Regions from separate parts of the Homo sapiens genome. Here region 2 is linked to region 1. Evidence: fine-mapped expression QTL. Tissue or cell type: whole blood. Region 1 holds a variant in brackets; the other region holds the start of a gene. All regions are shown on one strand. Distances are between the middles of the regions.

What was found. PIP is the estimated chance that this variant, and not a neighbour inherited with it, causes the effect.
Region 2: it holds the start of CCDC154, and the variant in region 1 is fine-mapped to the expression of CCDC154 in whole blood (TOPMed, PIP above 0.99).

What each region holds. Positions count from the first base shown.
Region 1 is chr16:1,465,858-1,468,609 of GRCh38, forward strand. The region is part of intron 1 of CLCN7 (chloride voltage-gated channel 7); the gene reads right to left. Among named protein-coding and RNA genes, the nearest start is that of CLCN7, 7.8 kb to the right of the region's middle. The variant T/TG (reference allele first, on the strand shown) is at 1,246.
Region 2 is chr16:1,443,349-1,446,100 of GRCh38, forward strand. It overlaps CCDC154 (coiled-coil domain containing 154), which reads right to left and starts at 1,208. Exons shown (of 17, transcript NM_001143980.3): 1 at 968-1,208; 2 at 448-664; 3 at 158-347. The coding sequence starts at 974. It overlaps CLCN7 (chloride voltage-gated channel 7), which reads right to left. Exons shown (of 25, transcript NM_001287.6): 25 at 1,587-2,752.

The DNA of each region.
Region 1 (2,752 bases):
CCACCTAAGGCTTTGCGGCCGCCCCAGCTCAGGGCAGGGGCAGGGCAGCGGGCCCTGGGTGGCGTGGTGCAGATGTGACTTACGGAGCTCCCACCCCAGTCTCCGGCTCCTTACTAGAGCCAAGGCGCTGAGGCCAGGCTAGGAGGAGCCAAGACCTCAGCCTCCTTTCCCCAAAGAGATCCTTTGGAGACGACTCCAATTTCCACTATCTCCTGAATCTTTAGCAACATCTGGGGACATGAAGGGAAGAAGGGCTGCCTTCCAGGTGGAGGGACCGCATGCGCAGGGCGCCCGCCATCTGCATCAGAGAGCCCGTGCGCCTGTCAGGAAAGTGTTGGCGGAGGAGTCCAGCGGCTGGTACCGGCCGTGGGAAGACCAACGAGGCTGCCGCCCGCCTTCCCTGGGAGCAGCCCTCCCGGCCCCCAACGCCGTCCCCTCCTCATCCCCCCATCTCTCCCTCCACCTTCCTCAGGCTCGGCCTCCCGCACCAGGTTTCAGCAGGGCCTGGAAGTGCTTCTTGGTGATAGAACGGCAGGTGATGGCGCCAGGAGCCCACAGGGCCGAGGTGGGGACGGGGAGACGTGCAGGAACGGCCTGCACTGGGGCCCAGTTTTCCCTCAACCTCCACCTATCCACGGGGATCACGATTACCACACACAGGCAAGGACACAGAAGCAGAGAAGGAAGGTTTGGGATCTGAGGTCACTGCGAGCCAGGGGTGGGGGTCCTGCTTTCTCTGGAGTGCTCACCCCTGAAGGAGACGGGCTCCCCAAACCGCCATCCCAGAAACTGCCTTCAGAACCAGACCTTCCCGGCGGGGTACAGTGGCTCATGCCTGTAATCCCAGCACTTTCAGAGGCTGAGGCGGGCAAATCACTTGAGGCCAGGAGTTCGAGACCAGCTGGGCCAACATGGCGAAACCCCATCTCTACTAAAAATACAAAAAGTAGGCGGGCTACTTGGGAGGCTAAGGCGGGAGAATCGCTTGAAGCCGGGAGGTGGAGTCTGCAGTGAGCTGAGATCGCACCACTGCACTCCAGCCTAGGTAACAGCAAGACTCTGTCTCAAAAAAAAAAAAAAAAAAAAAAAAAAAAAAAGAACCTGACCTTCCAGCCCACTGCCCTCCAGGGACCCCTTCCCCAACCATCGTCCTGTTACCAGCCACCGTCGCCCTTGCTGTACACCCCCCGTGTTGATGACCCGGTAAGTGGCCCTGGCAGGGGAAGGAACCTGGGCACGTGCCAC[T/TG]GGCCCTTGGCAGACACCAGTCAGAGCCTCCTCCTCTCCCCAGGCAAAGAGCACTCTCAGGCCATCCCCATCAAAAGCCAGGAGCAGAGGCCAGACAGACAGACAGACAGACTCGCAGGTGTCTGCCGTGGCATCTCCACGCCCAGGGGAGAGTGTGGGAGGGGCTAGAGTGCACAGGTCCTGCTGGACACAACCCTGAGTCACAGGGCGCCTGCCCCTCCTCTTCCCCCAGCCTTGCCACATGCCAGTGGCTCTCCCTGAGCCCTCAGTCACAGGCGAAACTCACAGCTTGAGTCTCCTGCCACACGGGCTGACGGTGGGAGGAGGAAGGTGCCACGGTCCAGGCATGATGGAAGCAGTGGCCTGGCCAGCTGCCCACTCCCTCTTGCTCACACTCACATCAAAGCCCCTGGACTCCAGGTCTCACCACCAGAAAACAGCCCTGGGACCAGCGCTGGGCCTCTGACCCCCACCTCCCAGGTGGACAGGTGCCCCGATGCCCCAAACAGAGACCACGGAACCCAAAAGACCCATTTCACCATGAGGAAGGACCCCACGTCCAAACAGGCACCCTGTGGGACACACCCTGCCCAGAGGGCCACCCTCTCCATCACTCAAGATGTCAGCACTTCTCTCTAACGCCACTCAAGGCCTGCCGTGCTTCTCAGGCTATTCCTTGCTGGAAATAACGGATCATTCTGGCCGGACGTGGTGGCTCACGCCTGTAATCCCAGCACTTTGGGAGGCTCAGGCAGGAGGATCGCTTGAGCCCAGGAGTTCAAAGCCAACCTGGACAACGTAGTGAGACCCTGTCTCTACAAAAAATCAAAATCAGCAAGGCATGGTGGCGTGTACCTGTGGCCCAAACTACTCAGGAGGCTGAGGCAAGAGGATCGCTTGAGCCTGGGAAGTCGAGGCTACAGTGAGCTATGGTTGCACCACTGCGCTCCAGCCTGGGCAACACGGCAAGACCCTATCTCTAAAATTAAAAAAAAAAACCCAAACAAAACGAAAACAGCCACAGTCACATGTCCTGGGCGCCAGGCCTGGGAGGCCTTGAGGAGGGCCACCGTCTACACCACGACAGCACTGTCCCACAGCAGCAGGCAGAGCCGCACATGCATTCAGGCCAAGGTGAAGGCTGCCGGTGCAGTATGTGACCAGCGGGCCACCCCCACCGCCGCCGCCTTGGCAGATCCGAGAGGGGTGAGGGGTGAGGGGTTGCCCCCCAGCAGGGCATCAGCTGCCCCTGCCCGGAGTGAAAGGATGGGGCTCCGGCGCCTTGCCTTCCCAGCATCTCTTTCCTTAACTCTGCCAGGACTTTGAGAAGGTGGCTTTCGTAATGGAAGAACACGACGTTTACTTCAAGTTCAGCAATGCATTCCGTGCGGTTACTTTCTTTTTTAAATGCAAGCTCTTATAAATTAAACACTAGATGCTGTTCCTCAAACTCCTGCCACACACGGCAACCTACACGGTCCCAAGCGCCGGACACTAACTAAAAACA
Region 2 (2,752 bases), 23 kb before region 1:
GGCACCTGCCCCTGGAGTCCACCCAGCTCCGGCACCACTGGCCCCTGGGAGCTCTGGGCCTGGGCAGCAGGGGTGAGCTGGGCTCCAGGCCCAGAAGCAGCTGCCCCCAACACCCAGGAAAGGGGCAGCTCGACCTGTGGGTGGGGGAGCCGCTCACCTCCGGCGCCTCCTTTTCGGGGGCCTGGGCTGCCGGCCGCGCCTCCTGCTGCAACTGCCTCAGCTCTGAGCCCTGCAGCTGCACGCGGGCCCGCACCTGGAGCAGCTCCCGCAGCAGGCTCCGCGTGGCGCGCTCACAGCGCTGCTTGTGCTCCCGCAGGCAGGCCACCTCGGCCTGCAGCTCCACCACCCTGGCCGGGGCGAGAGTGGGCGAGTCTGGCGGTGCCCGCCGTGGAGGCGGAGGCGGCGGCGACGTGGTCCTCCCCCGCCAGCACCCCCTGCAGGGCTCACCACTGCTCCAGCTGGTTCCAGTGCTTGGCGGTGTCCTGCTCGGGGACAGAGGCCGTGGATGTCGGATGGCTGGACTCATACCTCTCCGAGAGCTCCTCCAGGCTCAAGGGCTCGGGGCTGGCCAGGCCTCCTGCCAGGAGGAGCCCCAGGTCTTCCAGGGTGACGGCTCTCAGCTGGGAAGGGGCCGATGCCCCTGAGGGTCCACTGTCAGCCAACTCTACAAGGAGGCATCTTGGGAGCTTGCCCCTTGGGGCCCGGCCCCCACTGGAGCTTACGGGAACAAGGCCCCAAACCCCCGCAGGACCCTCGCCCACCACCCAGAGCTCAACGCGTCTCCTTGGGTCACACAGGATCCAGACGGGCTTGGCTCAGACAAGTCCAGGGCCCTGCCTGAAGACACACAGCACTGGGCGGCAGGAACAAGCGAGCTGGAGGGAGCCCGGGGTCAGAAGCAGAGCGGTCCCCACCCTCACACCTGTGGCAAGCCCCTCCCTGGGCCCCGCTCCTCCGCTCTGGTCACCTGACATGGCTGCTGGGCTGCACCGGCCACCCTGCCCTCGGCTGTAGCTTGGGCCTTGGGGCCTCTGAGGTTGCCCAGAGCTGGGCACAGGCCAGGGGGGTCAGGAGCCAGAGGAAGTCCCGTGAGAGCTCTGGGCCTTGAGGGACGAGCTGCTGCCCTCGTCTGGCTGCCTTCTCAGGGTCCCCAGGGAGGCAGGTGTGGGGCAGCGGGGCCGTTCCAGAACCTTCCTTCTCTCCCCAGAACCTCACGGCTTCACAGCCCAACTGCCAATGGAACTCTAGCCCTCAGCTCTCCCACTCCCGCAGGGCCCCCCAACTGCCTGCTTCTGGATGGATCTGAGGGGCCCCACTCCCGAGAGGGCGCAGACACGTGTCCTCTGGCAAAGGGGACTTCTTCAGCTGCCGAGGGAGGGGAAGGAGGCCCTGACGAGGCCTGGGCACGCCGGGAGGGACGCTGGGAGCAGGGAGGCCGAGAGCCCCAGGACACCCCGGACACAGCCAGGCCCACGTCCGAGCGGAGCCCGAGGCCTGGGCAGCGCCATCGGGGTGAGGGGCACAGCCGGGCTCCACGGGAACCCATCTTGCTCAGCAGCCCCATTAAAAGGCAAGAAGCAGCGATGTGAATCCTAACCGCTGATTTTATTTAACCGAATATATCCAAAATATGATCACTTCCAGGTCCTCAGTACACAACCACCACGAGGGAAACCCAGACCTAGGTTTCCGGCGCCGACTCTGAGGCCCGGGAGTTTTCTTCTTGCGTCACCCCAGCGTGGGCACCCCGGCCCGCCCCCCTCCACCTGGAGCGCCTCTGCCTTGCCCCCAGACCCACCAGCCAGGAGCCAGAGGAGGGAGGCTGAGGGGCGGGGACGAGGAAGAGGATGTGGCTGGTGCCCTGGGTGGCCGCAGCCGCTGTCTTTCACGCCTTTCTCACTCCACACGGTGCCCCGACCCCAGGGTCCCGAAAGTCCCAGGCTGTTGGACGTGGTCTGGGTGGGGTGGGAGGGACGACGCTGGCAAAGGCGGGCTGAGAGGATTTCTTTATTTCGCGTTCAGACCCAACACACTCGGACACCTTGGGGCCCTGTGAGGGCTAAGCAGGGTGGTGGCGTCAGCTCCCGGGGAGGCCCCACTCCCTGGGGAGGAAATACACGGCAGGGGGCCGCACCCAGCCCCCCACGGAGGGACCCGTGTTGCTCTAACAGGGACACTGAAGTTGCCTCTGCCGCCCCGTGAGGGGCCTGTGGCGGCCCCAGACCCAGCCCAGCCAGGCCAGAGGAGCCTCCCAGGGGCCCTCAGGTGGTGAGGTGGGGGCTTCCCGGCCCCGGTGCCCACCGGCCCTTCTAGCTGCCTGTGCTGGGCCAGGTGTCCTCTGAGGCCGGCAGGAGTCTGGCCCCCGCTGCACCTGCGCTTGGTGGCTGGCAGGGGCGGGGTAGGGAGGTCACCCTCGAGGCCGGGGTCCCCATGTGCTAGGGGAAGACCTGCCTTCCCAGCCAGTGTCCACAGGGCAGCAATTCCACGCTCTGAGGCTCAGGGACCAAGGCAGGGCTGGGTGTGGGGCCCAGACTCCAAGCTCTGGGGGTTGGGGGACCAAGGCAGGGCTGGGCATGGGGCTCAGGGCCTTGGAGGTTTTTCTCAGCTCTCAACATCACAGCACAGGGCCCGTGAGTCACCCCAGTCCTCTGGGCCTGTGTACCCAAGCCGGATGCAGGCCGGGGAGTGCACGTGGGGCTCCTCTGTGGCGCCAGTGTGAAGCTGCTCTCCGGGGCGGTCGCAGCCTCCAAAC